4 linked regions of the Homo sapiens genome follow. The protein of the gene in region 2 purifies or fractionates together with the protein of the main gene of each other region. This does not show direct contact. Each region holds a gene or a part of one and is shown on either strand. Other genes may lie near its edges.

Evidence for each region. The genes of interacting proteins can lie anywhere in the genome.
Region 1: the proteins of IL31 (region 2) and MAN1A1 purify together in Homo sapiens (affinity purification with mass spectrometry; one large-scale study listed by BioGRID and IntAct). This does not show direct contact.
Region 3: the proteins of IL31 (region 2) and DNAJC1 purify together in Homo sapiens (affinity purification with mass spectrometry; one large-scale study listed by BioGRID and IntAct). This does not show direct contact.
Region 4: the proteins of IL31 (region 2) and ROBO1 purify together in Homo sapiens (affinity purification with mass spectrometry; one large-scale study listed by BioGRID and IntAct). This does not show direct contact.

The regions. Positions count from the first base shown.
Region 1 is NC_000006.12:119,343,262-119,346,761, reverse strand, and holds part of MAN1A1 (mannosyl-oligosaccharide 1,2-alpha-mannosidase IA), read left to right. Parts: intron 1-3,500. UniProt on the Homo sapiens protein: Involved in the maturation of Asn-linked oligosaccharides. Progressively trim alpha-1,2-linked mannose residues from Man(9)GlcNAc(2) to produce Man(5)GlcNAc(2).
Region 2 is NC_000012.12:122,171,529-122,175,597, forward strand, and holds IL31 (interleukin-31 precursor), read right to left. Parts: upstream 2,694-4,069; 5' UTR 2,645-2,693; coding exon 2,629-2,644; intron 2,465-2,628; coding exon 2,316-2,464; intron 1,214-2,315; coding exon 884-1,213; 3' UTR 501-883; downstream 1-500. UniProt on the Homo sapiens protein: Activates STAT3 and possibly STAT1 and STAT5 through the IL31 heterodimeric receptor composed of IL31RA and OSMR. May function in skin immunity. Enhances myeloid progenitor cell survival in vitro.
Region 3 is NC_000010.11:21,885,231-21,888,730, reverse strand, and holds part of DNAJC1 (dnaJ homolog subfamily C member 1 precursor), read left to right. Parts: intron 1-3,500. UniProt on the Homo sapiens protein: May modulate protein synthesis.
Region 4 is NC_000003.12:78,599,869-78,602,998, forward strand, and holds part of ROBO1 (roundabout homolog 1 isoform a precursor), read right to left. Parts: intron 442-3,130; coding exon 245-441; intron 1-244. UniProt on the Homo sapiens protein: Receptor for SLIT1 and SLIT2 that mediates cellular responses to molecular guidance cues in cellular migration, including axonal navigation at the ventral midline of the neural tube and projection of axons to different regions during neuronal development.

The DNA.
Region 1 (3,500 bases), on a different chromosome or scaffold from region 2:
CCGAGGAAAAGATTTTAATACGAAAGATACATAGATGTTAAGCTGTTGGTACTGACCAAGAGTGATTACAAGTGCATTCAGAGCAGAACCAGTGGGGCAGTAGCAGTCTCAGACTCAGGACAACATATTAACAGTGTGCATATCCATCCAGTAGATCCATGTTGTCTGTATGCCTAAATCACAAGGTCTTAATTAACCGTGTAAACGAGATTTACGTAGTCTCTGTCTAACATCTTAGCACCTAGATGTTTTGAAACCGCTCAGTCTTGCATAAAGCAGTGGAACTAAATGTGTTCTTTAAAATTCCTTGTTGCTGTGAGAACCCAAAAGAGCCAGCATAATTAGCTTTAGTGTTTAGTCAAAGGCTAATGGGAAGAAATGGATTATGATTTTCCATCAGATTAGTTCAGGCAGATATATTCCTTTGTAAACCAAAAGAAAAAAAAAAGAAATTATGATGCTGTTCTAAAAACTGTGCTGTAAATATTTGGCTTTAGAGAGGCAAGAGTGGTTGCCCATTGTAAATAGGGCACTGGACTTTAACTTTACGTATTTGGATTCAGTTTCAGGCACCACTGTGGACATTTTGTTATCAACCAGTAGATCTTTGCCTTAGTTTTTTTCTTTACCATTGTGTTTTCTTTTCTTTCTTTTTGGAGACAGAGTCTGGCTCTGTTGCCCAGGCTGGAGTGCAGTGGGGTGATCTCAGCTCACTCCAACCTCTGCCTCCTGGGTTCAAGCAATTCTCCTGCCTCAGCCTCCCAAGTAGCTGGGATTACAGGCACGTGCCACCACACCCAGCTAATTTTTGTATTTTTAGTAGAGACGGGGTTTCACCATGTTGGCCAGGCTGGTCACGAACTTGACCTCAAGTGATCGACCTGCCTGGCCTCTCAAAGTGCTGGGATTACAGGTATGAGCCACCATGCCTGACCTGTTCCTGTATTTTCTAATTCTCTTTATACTTAGGTTCTCTATCACACCTGAATGCACCAACACTTATAGTTAAAATTTAGAAAGTGCACTCAAGTCTAACATGTTGGAAGACTGGATTGTAATTTGAGTCAACCTGTTATTTTGTACTTGGTTCAAAGTCAGTCAATACTATTTTTTATATCTATGGCACATTTATGTTACTAGTACTGCAGTAGATTTTTAACAACTTCGTGTCTTAGGGGAGATACTCTGTTAATTTCAAATAGGTCATTGTACAGAATGCTTCACAAAAAATGTTAAATGCTTTCCACTACTGATTTGATGGATGATGAATCTTTGATGTAAAACTTCAAAATAGAATTAAGATCTTCCTCCCTTCACCTCTGTTAAAATTTTGTAAATTAACCCTGGGATTTCTCTGAGATTTATGATACATACATAGTGTATATTTATTTTCATGAGTTTGATCTTAAAATTGTACTCAGGTTGTCCTTAGCTTTAAAAAGCAGTGTTAGAATAATGAAGCACAAAAGTTAAAATAGCAGCATGGAAGTTTTAGAAAAATAGTCCATTTACTTTTTTTTTTAATCAGAAATCATTTTTAGCTTCCCTTCTCCCCCGCTCCGCCCCCCCCTCAACCTCTCCCATTTTCTCAATTAGCCTGTGCTGTCCTTTAGGATTAGAACCTTAATCCAATTTGGAGGATGACTTTTTTTTTCGTTTTTCTGAAATTAAGGGGAGACCTGAGTAATAGGGGCTGGGGCTAAAGACAGTCAGGTTGTCAGAGGGGACTCCTTTCTTCTCAGGCTGGAATCCTCACCAACCTAAGTGGGGGTTAGGGGTATGTGCAGACTGGCAGCCTTAGATTTGTCATGTAAGGCTTTAGGACCCTGCACCTGTGGGGTCACAGTTTTCTTCTCTCAGTTCTAAAACAAGACTTTAGTATTTTATTCCAGACCTATTTGTGTAATCATGAATTTAAAGAACATTTTCATATTGATGGCTAGTAGTTAAAATTCACATTTATTATACTTTATGCTAGCCTTAGGCATATAGCCTATAATTTATATTAACTATTGACAGTTTATACCCTTTTGGTAAAGATCAGATGTGAGAATAATCTGCCTTGGCAGGTTAAAACAAAACACTTTTATTTTGACACTTAACTTTCCAGTTTATTTTTATGGGTAGTTCTGGGGTGGAAAATAATATTTACAAAATAATAAAAGCCATGATTTGGAGACCTGACCCAAGAAGCTTCAACATCCTTAGGTTGCTTGCCTGTGCCACTGTGCCGTGACACATTCCCTACTGAACATAGGCTAGTGTGGGATTGCTCCACCCAGAGGCCCTTCCCCAGAGCAGGGAGGACATGGAGTGTTTGTGAAGGTTTTTCTCTCCTTAACAAGTAGGTTAGTTTTCAACAGTTTAAGTACTGGAGTAGGTGCTGACTGTTAATATACAAAAGCAAAAAAATACATATATACAGTAATGGGTAGTTAATTATGTTCAGCTTCATTTTCTGTAAGCTGTTGATAGTTTCTCCTAGAATATTCTGTCTTCCTCTTATCAAGGCAACTGGGATTCATATAAAGGAGCTTCTTATGTATATGGGACTTAGAAACTAGTTAAAAGTGTGAAAAGAGGTTTTAAAAAATATTTTCAAACAAATGCATCTATCTGTACTTCTTAGGTGAGCTAATGAACTAAACCATCTTGAAAAATTTATCTTAGTATTACACAAAATGCATTTGTATGAGATCTGAATTGGTTGGAATTCATTGAAGAACTTACATATTTGAATCAGATTATTTCATAAGCTGTGGTGGTACAAATTTTTCATTGAAGAGAATTTTAAGCATGTGTCCGAAGGTCAGAGGGGAGGAATGCCTGCAGATCCGTGTGAGGGATGAGGGCTGAATACACAGGGTAGATCAGAATTGCACTGGAACCTGGTTATACCTCCTAACCCAGTCAAGCACCTGTGGTCTTTTAAATTTCTTTCTTTATAATCTTGTGTATGTTGGTCAAAGAAGGGTTTGATTAGTCAAAATAGGAACAGCCACTGTGGGCTCCAGAGATACTGTGAAACGAGTGGCAAAACAACCTCCCCGCCAAGTAGACGAAAATAATAAACAAGATACCTGTTTGGTAGTTTAGGGAAGAGATTCCCTCTTTGAGGAAATAAGTCTTGACTTTTCCCTCAGTATTCTTAGCCTAGTTCCTTGCTTGGTGTTCAGTGATTGAACTATATCTTATCCCCACCCCCAACCTCTCAATCTGTTAAAAGGCCCTTTACACAAACTCTGCAAATTATGCCATGATAACTTTAAATCTCAGATTTTAAAACTAAGTGTATGCTCCGAGTCGTAAGGTATTGCATCTGAATGAGATCTGAGAGGTAGCTCATTCATTTTACAGTAGAGGCAACCAAGACACAAAGATCATTCTGGAAATCACATCACCAGCTAGTGGCAGAGTTGAGTTGCAGAGGGAAGCCCCAGTCTTCTGTGAGTGTTGCGCATTGTCTCCCACATGGTTTGTCTCCTAAATAAAACCCCAAA
Region 2 (4,069 bases):
TTGGGTTGGTTTTTTTAGAGATGGGATCTTGCTATGTTGCCCAGGCTGGTCCGAAACTCTGGCCCCAAGCAGTCCTCCAGCCTTAGCTTCCCAAAGTGCTGGGATATCTGATCTGTGTTACAACCCTATGAGGCTGTGGCCATCACCATCGCCATTTCCAGACGAAACTAGCCACCGTGTACCACCAGGGTCATTATTTCTTTTCTCTTTCTTTTTTTTAAATAGAGATGGGGTCTCACTATGTTGCCCAGGCTGGTCTGGAACTCCTGGGCTCAAGTGATCCTCCTGCCTTTATCTCCCAAAGTGCTGGGATTGCAGGTGTGAGCCACAGTGCCTGGCTCAGGGTCATTATTTTTTATTGAGCCCGTCCAGTGGGAAGAAATGACAGTGGTAGAAGCGATACCTCTTTCTAGAGCATGTCCATCTGCCCTCTGCCACAACTCTACCCAGCTTGGAGTCCCATTTGCCAATGTCAAGCCCCTCACAAAATGTGTCACAGATTATGAGAAAAATTCAATATAATTTATTAAATAGATTCCGAGGGCTCCCCCAGGGAGCATTGACAACTCTTAGTACAATAAATATCAATAAATTAACATAGCTGCCACCTCCCACCCTCACGAGGGTATAATAAGTAAGACTTAAGCCTGCAGAAGAAAAGCATTCCATAAATACCAAGACTAATAACAATAACCTAATGTTTTTCAAGGTAATTCACAAATTCACATCTCAGCCCTCCCGGGACTAGCCCATATGAGGGGTCCCTGAGATTATTCATTGGAAAAATGTACTTAAGGAATCACGGCAGAGTTCCCACACTTAGCTGTCGGTCATCTTTTTAAGGCTCCTTAAGTTCCTGCCAATCCGAAAGGAAGAGATGGCCTTAAGTGGTGGCCTGTTGGGCTCCAGAGGTCAATGATTTTAGTGCGAGGTCCATGCACTCTGAAAACTGTTGAGAAATAGTCAGGATGAAGCGTTTACATTCATGGGTGTCTGTTGGCACAGAAATGTTTGTTTCTGGTGCATCTTGAAATATGAGTTTGTCGAGGTGCTCTATGATCTCATCAATAACAGATTTGTTGTCTAGCTGTCTGATTGTCTTGAGATATGCCCGGATGGCTGGGCTGTGGATGTTGTTTGGCGGCTGGGCGTCAGGGCTGAGACACGGCAGCGTGTAATTCTGGGACACGAGCACGCCCTTCTCTTCCTCCACCTGTGGAATGAGGAGAAATGGTCAGTGTTGGGTTTGCAATGACAGCTGCAAGTCTTAACAGTGAATGTTTGCATGCTTCCTCCGTAACCCGCCTCGTTGATATATTTATCTGATCAATGTCACAACCCTATGAGGCTGTGCCATCACCAACCCCATTTCCAGATGAAACTAGAGCTTAGGTGGCTGCAGTCCTGAAGCCTGTGCTCAGAACCACTGATCCATCCAGCTGAGGCCTCCCAGCCTTCCAGAACCCACTCTCACGTGCTCAGGGTGGTGGGAATTGCAGCACATCTGGCCTTCCATGGCAGCTCCCCGCCCTTTGGGACTCTGTGTTAAAGCCACGCACGCTCCACTTATAAAGGAGAGTGTTAGGCTTGTCCGGAAAGGCCTCCGAGATGCAGGCGAGAGTTTTCCCCAACAAACCAAGGAGTCCGGACCACTCCCTCCCTTCCTCTTTCTAAGTACTAACTAGAGTCAGACCAAATTGCCAGCAGCACCTCATCAACCTGAACTGCCCAGTCATCTTGGGTTGGTAACAACCTCTGCCTTTTATAAAAGCCAAGGCTAAGGTCTAAATACCAAGGCAGATGAGAAGAGTAATGCCAATTTTATGAATTGTTTCCAAGTTTGGGCATTTGTTTGTTTGATCAAAGCTATCTTGGCTGGGCACAGTGGCTCACGCCTGTAATCCCAGCACTTTGGGAGGCCAAGGCAGGCGGATCACTTGAGGTCAGGAGTTCAAGACCAGCCTGGCCAACGTGGAGAAACTCTGTCTCTACTAAAAATATGAAAATTAGCTGGGCGTGGTGGCGCATGCCTGTAGTCCCAGCTACTCGGGAGGCTGAGGCAGGAGAATCGCTTGAACCCAGGAAGCAGAGGTTGCAGTGAGCCAAGATTGCACCACTGCACTCCAGCCTGGGTGACAGAGTAAGACTCTGTCTCAAAAAAAAAAAAAAAGCCATCTTTGCCTGTCTAGTTTCCCCCATCCCTTCCTGGCATAGCTACAGCCCTGGTTTCAGGTCCGGAGAGAGGAGCCTCTTTGGAGGGCAATGGAAGGCATTTTTAAGAAATCGTTTAGAAAAGAAATCTCTAGGACACTCACATCTTTCAAAAGCATCTTCGAGAGGGACTGTAATTCCTCGACTATTTTCTGTACATCATCACTTGGTCGTAGTAAACGGACGGGCAACGTGTGGGAGGCCAGCCAGCCTCCCAGGCAGCAGAACAGAAAGAGCACAGACGTCGAGGGGCCTGGAGAGAGAACGATGCCGTGAGCGCATACATCACACACCCCTGCCCACCCTGGCTCCATCCCTGCAGCCCTGCTGAGCCAACCCTGGGGGTAGTGCTTCCAGAATCTTCCTGGTGAGATAAGATGATGCCCAAGACTCCGGAAGCACCAGGACCAGTGATACCTGAGTGAGAGGCCATGGCGAGAGAGAGCAAGGCCAGCTTCAGTGGGGGCTTCTGGAGCCAGATGTGTTCGCCATGGCTGCCTGGAGGTATATAAAGGGCCAGGGTGAGGAGAAAGAGCAGTCAGCGTCCCGCCCATGGCAAAACCATTTACTCAGCTTTTCTCCAGAAAACACTCAAAAGTTCTACTGGCCACGGCTGAGTGAAAGGGCTGAATGGAAATGCTGAGGTTACCCTCCAGGTGGGCAGATGCCTGACTCAGACACACACATACTTCACAAGAAGGCACATGAATGCATCTTTGCCATTCTTCTTGGAAGGAGCCTGTTGATTTGACTAGACAAAATTTTGAAGCCCAGGGTTGACAGACACGACCATACCACCAAGGAGCGGGTGACTTCCAGGAGTTCAAGGCCAGCGGCCACAGGGAATTTCTGGGGAGGAAATGCGAAGCCGGCATGAGATGTGCAGAATGCGGTATCTCTGGAAATTTCTGCAGCATATGCCCACGCCGGTGTGCAGGGACGGCCCCATAACTGCTGTGAATGTGGCGGGTCGAAGGCTTCATCTCAACTCCATGTGGCCTTGGACATCACTGGACTCTCCATCGTGCCTCTGCAATCTCAGGGCCCAGAACCAGAGACTGTGATCCAGAGTTATTGCTTGAAATCCTTGTTCATATCTTTTTTCTTTTTTTTTTTTTTGAGATGGAGTCTTGCTCTGTCACCCAGGCTGGAGTGCGGTGGCGTGATCACTGCAACCTCTGTCTCCTGGGCTCAAGCAATTCTCATGCCTCAGTCTCAGCCTCCCAAGTAGCTGGGACTACAGGCACGTGCCACCATGCCCAGCTAATTTTTGTATTTTTAGTAGAAATGGGGTTTCGCCATGTTGGTCAAGCTGGTCTCTAACTCCTGACCTCAGGTGATCTGCCTGCCTCGGCTTCCCAAAGTGCTGGAATTACAGGCATGAGCCACTGCGCCAGCCTAGAAACTTTATTGCTTTTCTTTCTTTCTTTCTTTCTTTCTTTTTTTTTGAGACAGAGTCTTGCTCTGTCGCCTGGGCTGGAGTGCAGTAGCGCAATCTCGGCTCACTGCAACCTCCACTTCCCAGGTTCAAGCAATTCTCTTGCCTCAGCCTCCTGAGTGGCTGGGATTACAGGCGCCCACCACCACGCACAGCTAATTTTTGTATTTTTAGTAGAGACGGGGTTCACTATGTTGGCCAGGCTGGTCTCAAACGCCTGACCTTGTGATCCACCTGCCTCCGCCTCTCAAAGTGCTGGGATTACAGGTGCGAGCCACCACTCTGGCCTTAGAAACTATTTCTAAGTTCATTAGCTTTCTTTTTCTTTCTTTTTTTTTTTTTTTGAGACAGGGTCTCATTCTGTCACCCAGGCCAGAGTGCAGTGGCATCATCACAACTCACGGCAGCCCCGATCCCCTG
Region 3 (3,500 bases), on a different chromosome or scaffold from region 2:
TTCTCATAATTTAGCTCTCACTTGTAAGTGAAAACATATGGTATTTGGTTTTCTATTCTTGGTTTAGTTTGCTAAGGATAACAGCCTCCAGCTCCATCCATGTTCCTGCAAAAGACATGATCTCATTCTTTTTATGGCTGCATAGTATTCCATGGTGTATATGTACCACATTTTATGGCTGCATAGTATCCCATGATGTATATGTACCATATTTTCTTTATCAAATTGCTAATTGATGGGCATTCAGGTTGATTCCATGTCTTTGCTATTGTGAATAGTGCTGCATTGAACATCTGTGTGCATGTGTCTTTACGGTAGAATGATTTACACTCCTCTGAGTATATACTCAGTAATGGTATTGCTAGGTTAAATAGTAGTTCTGCTTTTAGCTCTTTGAGGAATCACCATACTGTCTTCCATAATGGTTGAACTAATTTTCACTCCCACCAACAGTGTATAGGTGTTCCCTTTTCTCCATAACCTTGGCATCATCTGTTATTTTTTGACCTTTTAGTAATAGTCATTCTGACTGGATAGAGATGGTATCTCATTGTGGTTTTGATTTGCATTACTCTAATAATCAGTGATATGGAGCTTTTTTTCATGTGCTTATTGGCTGCATGGATGTCTTCTTTTGAAAAGTGTCTGTTTATGTCATTTGCCCACTTTTTAATGGGGTTGTTTGTTTTTCTCTTGTATATTTATTGAAGTTCCTTATGGATCCTGGATATTAGACCTTTGTCACATGCAGAGTTTTCAAAAATTTTCTCCCATTCTGTAGGTTGTCTTTTTACTCTGTCGATAGTTTCTTTATGCTGTGCAGAAGCTCTTAAGTTTAAATCTCAGTTGTCAATTTTTGCTTTTGTTTCAATTGCTTTTGGTGTCTTTGTAATGAAATCTTGGCCCATTCCTACATCCAGGTTGCTATTGCCTGTGTTGTCCTCCAGGTTTTTTATAGTTTTGGGTTTTATGTTTAAATATTTACTCCATCTTTAGTTGATTTTTGTGTATGGTGTAAAGAAGGGGTCCAGTTTCAATCTTCTGCATATGGCTAGCCAGTTATTCCAGCACCACTTATTGAATAGGGAGTCCTTTCCTTATTGCTTGTTTTTATCAGCTTTGTCAAAAGTCAGATGGTTATAGGTGTGCAGCCTTATTTCTGGGCTCTCTGTTCTGTTCCATTGGTCTATGTGCCTGTTTTTGTACCAGTACCATGCTGTTTTGGTTATGTAGCCCTGTAGTATTGTTTGAAGTAAGGTAGTGTGATGCCTCCAGTTTTGTTTTTTTTGCTTAGGATTGTCTTGGCTATTCAGGCTCTTTTTCATTTCATATGAATTTTAAAATAGTTTTGTCTAGTTCTGTGAAGAATGTCGTTGTTAATTTGATAGGAATAGCATTGAATCTGTAAATTACTTTGAGCAATATGACCATTTAAATGATACTGATTCTTCCTATCCATGAGCATGGGATGTTTTTCCACTTGTTTGTGTCTTCTCTGATTTCTTTATTTGAGTTTTGTAATTCTCGTCATAGAACTCTTTCACCTCCCTGGTTGGCTGTATTCCTAGGTATTTTATTCTTTTTGCGGCAGTTGTGAATAGGATTGCCTTTCTGATTTGACTCTAGGTTTGGCTGTTGTTGGAGTATAGGAATGCTAGTGATTTTTGTACATTGATTTGTATCCTGAAACTTTGCTGAAGATGTTTACCAGCTAAAGGAGCTTTGGGCCGAAACTATGGGGTTTTCTAGATATAGAATCATGTCAATTGCAAACAGGGACAGTTTGGCTTCCTCTCTTTTTATTTGAATGTGCTTTATTTCTTTCTCTTGCCTAATTGCTTCAGCTAGGACTTCCAATACTGTGTTGAATAGAAGTGGTGAGAAAGGGCATCCTTGTCTTGTGCCAATTTTCAAAGGGAATACCTAGTTTATTGAGAGTTTTTTTTAACATAAAGGGGTGTTGAATTTTATTGAAAGCTTTTTCTGTATCTATTCAGGTAATCATGCAGTTTTTGTCTTTAGTTCTGTTTATGTGAAGAATCACATTTATTAATTTGCTTATGTTGTACCAACCTTGCTACCTGGGGTTGAAGAATACTTGATTGAGGTGGATTAGCTTTTTGATGTGCTGCTGGATTCAGTTTGCAAATATTTTGTAATTTTTGCATCACTGTTAATCAAGGATGTTGAACTGAAGTTTTTTTGTTGTTGTGGCTCTGCCAGGTTTTAGTATCAGGATGATGCTGGCCTCATAGAATGAGTTTGGGAGGAGTCCTTCCTCCTCAGTTTTTTGGAATTGTTTCTGTAGGAATGATACCAGCTGTTTGTACATCTGGTAGAATTCAGCTGTGAATCCATCAGGTCCTGGCCTTTTTTTAGTTGGGAGCCTAATTTATTACTGATTCAATTTTGGAGCTCATTATTGGTCTATTCAAGGAATCAATTTCTTTCTGGTTCAGTCTTAGGAGGGTGTATGTGTCCAGGAATTTATCCATCTCTTCTAGGTTTTCTAGTTTGTGTGCATAGAGGTTTCTGTAGTAGTTTCTGTTGGTTATTTTTACTTCTGTGGGGTCAGTGGTAATGATGACACCCTTCATCATTTCTAATTGTGGTTTTTGGGGTTTTCTCTCTATTAGCCTAGCTAGTAGCTTACCTATCTTGTTAAATTTTTTTTTAAAATCCATTCTTGGATTTGTTTATCTTTTGAATGGATTTTCTTGTCTCTGTCTCCTTCATTTCAGCTCTGATTTTGGTTATGTTTTGTCTCCTGCTATCTTTGCAGTTGATTTGTTCTTGCTTCTCTAATTCTTTCCGTTGTGATGTTAGGTTGTTAATTTGAGATCTTTCTGACTTTTTGATGTGGGCATTTAGCGCTATGAATTTCCCTCTTAACACTGCCTTAGCTGTGTCCCAGATATTCTGGTATGTTGTATCTTTGTTTTCATTAGTTTCAAAGAACTTCTTGATTTCTGCCTTTATTTCATGATTTATCTAAAAGTCATTCAGGAGTATGTCATTTAATTTCCGTGTAATTGCATTCTTTTGAGCAAGTTTCTTAGTCTTCTGTTTTTATTGCACTGTGGTTTGAGAGTGTGTTTAATACGGTTTTGGTTCTTTTGCATTTGCTGAGGATAGTTTAATGTTCAATTATGTGATCAATTTTAGAGTATGTGCCATGTGGCAAGGAGAAGAATGTATATTCTGTTGTTTGGGGGTAGAAAGTTCTGTAGAGATCTATCAGATCCATTTGGTTCACTGTTTAGTTTGGGTCCTGAATATCTTTGTTAATTTTCTGCCTCAGTGATCTGTCTAATACTGTCAATGGAGTGTTGAAGTCTTCAACTATTAATGTGGGTGAGTCTGTGTCTCTTTTTAGGTCTCTAAGAACTCGCTTTATGAATCTGGGTCCTCCTGTGTTGGGTGCATATATATTTAGGATAGTTAAGTCTTGTTGAATTGAACCCTTTGCCATTATGTATTGCCCTTTTTTTGTGTTTTTT
Region 4 (3,130 bases), on a different chromosome or scaffold from region 2:
GAAAATCTGCAAATGAAGATAAACCCTAGCTAAACAAATAAACTGCCATTAACATTTAAAACTTTGGGACACATTTCAAGAAAATTCTCAAATTCTCAGAACTTCAGTTTCTGCCATCATAGACATTAGAGTACTGAAAAGTTTGCAATAAAACAGTAACATTTCTGTACACTGATGAAGGTTCCTAACTACATAAAACAACCACAGTCTAACATTGGTAAACTTGGGGAAAAATTATAGATACCTCTAATTCTTCATTATTATCTTCTCCTCTTTCATATCCTCCAAGTACCTGCATTTCTGCAATATTTCTTCGACCTACATTTGCTTGTTCTCTTTGTCTGCTTCCTGATCCTCTTGATGACATTGAGCTTGAGGAACTGGGATCTCTGGGATTATTTGATGTTGGAAAAGTAGGTCTACAATAAGGTAGAATATCCTCTGTGTAATGAAATATAATAAATGCAGGTGAGTACCATCATACACTTTCACTGTATATTGTATCACTCCTGTCTATCTGTAATTCTGAATAAGGAAGCATCAGTGATTTAAGGTATAAATGAGGACACTCTATAAGCATAATGAATAATGTAGCATAGTGTGTTGAAAATGAAAAGTATAAGCCTTGTTGTTTTCCTGTTAGTAGTCAGGGATTTGGATTGATTCCACTCATAAGCTCTTGTCCATCTCAAACTCACTACAGACCAATATCATTAAAAGAGGTAAACCAAACCTGGAGTCAGACTTGGCTTCCAATTCTGTCATTCACTATATGATCTCAGATTATTTTAGGCTTTAGTTTCTACTTTTCCAAAAAAAGTGATGATAACATCTATACCTAGAGGGTTTCTGTCAGGCCTCCGTTCACATGGACACGTGAGACAGTTTCTTAGTGTTGATATGAAAACAGATGAGATAATAAAATATCTACATAACTTATAAAATGTTATTATAAGGAATTGGTAAAAATCAAGCCCAGTCTCCTAGAAATATCAAACAGAACCAAGCCTGGTTTCACTCCACAGACACCAAAATATCAACCTCCACGTCAATGTCCTATTTACATTGTGGAACTCTGAATCTTAGAAGCCTGCTATTGTTGCTAACTTCAATAAGCAAGCCACTCCAATTAATTTCTGTCTCCTGAATTTCTACCTCCTTAACTGCTTGAAAATTTGGTGCTACTTCTACTGATGCATCAGCCAGCTGCTCACTTCTCTCCAAAGTCTGCCAACTCTGCCTTTTAGATGACAAACACATAAATACCTAACTCTTTGGCATGCTTTTCCCCACCTCCCCCAAATGCTTCCTCTACTATTCACATTGCCTGAGTGAAGCCTGATTTCCCTTGAAGTTCCCGCTGACGTTCTCTGTAGTGGAAGGGTAAGGCAGAAGGCTTCCCTCTAGCTCACCATCACCAGTTCTAAATTATTGCTCCTCTATCCTTGCACAAAAACATCTCCACCTCTGAGGCCCAAGCCATCGTTTTCTGAAGCCAGTATAGTCTTCCTTGATAGCGTCTTGTTCTTTCCATTCTACTCATCACAACTTTCACCCCTAACCCACAGTTCTGACACATAGGAGTTTCACAGTCCATGAGGATGACTGTTTCTGCAGCTTCTCTTCATAACACTTGATACCATGTGACCATCATCCTCTGTCTCTGTTTCATCAACAGCTTTCTCTCTACTGACTTTAGTTTTCTCAAACTACAATATGATAAAATCTCTCTCTTACTAAAAACTTTCCCCTTAAGACTGTGCTCTCCATGAAATCAACACCTTCTTTCTTTCCTCACCACTCAGCCAAGCTTCTTGAAAAGCAATTTGGATTCAATATTGATAGTCACAATTCCCATTCATTCTGCATCCCACTGAAATCTATTTATGCCTACATCACTACTATGAAACTGAGAAAATTGATAATGCTAACCGTGTTTCCAGCCTTGTGTCCCTGGACTTCTTACTGCTCTTAATCAATGCAAATATTATTCTCTCAGCTGCTAGCTTTCCTTCCTCCCTGGTCAATCTTCTGTGAGCTCTTTTTATGAAGCACCACAGATATGCTGATGCTCTACAGGTTTCTACTTTCAGCCTAATGTATATAATTCATATATATGTATAATATAATTATATATACGTTATACATATATGTATGTATATCATTCATGTGTGTGAGTGTGTGTGTGTGTGTGTGTGTATATATATAGATGAATGATATAGTTTGGATATTTGTCACTGCCCAAATCGCATGTTGAATTGTAATCCCCACTGTTGGAGGTGGGGCCAGGTGGGAGATGTCTGGATCATGGAGGCAGATACCTCATGGATCGCTTGGGCCATCCCCTTGATGATAGGTGAGCTCTTGCTCTGAGTTCACACAAGATCTGGTGGTTTAAAAGTATGTGGCACCTCCATCCCACTCTCTCTCTCTCTTGCTCCTGCTTTCACCATGTGATGTGCCTACTCTGCCTTCACCTTCCGCCATGATTCTAAGCTTCCTGAGGTCTCCTCAGAAGCCAAGCGGATGTCAACACCATGTTTCCTATAAAGGCTGCAGAACACTTAGCCAATTAAATCTCTTTCTTTTATAAATTACCCAGTCTCAGGTTTTTCTTTATAGAAATGCAAGAATGGCTTAATACTACATATATATTATTTCTTCTACTGACCCTAGGTGATTTTACCCAGTCTCACAGATTATAACCCTTTCTAAAATATAACTGTCATAAGGGGAGGTATTTTGTATGCTTTGCGTGCTGATATACTTTCATCTTGACCTGTAACACGTCATTAATACATTGTTTTACATTATTTTCATCATGCTGAATCATTAATTTATATTTTTAATTCCTAAACTATGCCCCAAACCTTAGGCTCCTATAGGCACCCCAGCTGAACCCCTACTCTTACATGTTCCTCAAACTCAACCTGTTGAACATTGACCTCACAATGCTCACTCCCTTAGATATCTTCCTTTGCTACATTCTCTAAGACAGTGAATGACATCACTAATCATTAAGATACGCAAGACAGAATATTGAAATTATTATAGATTCTTCCCTTTCAACAACCTTTCCATACATCTTAAGTGTATCCTTTCCACATGGTCCAACATACAACAAGTAAGT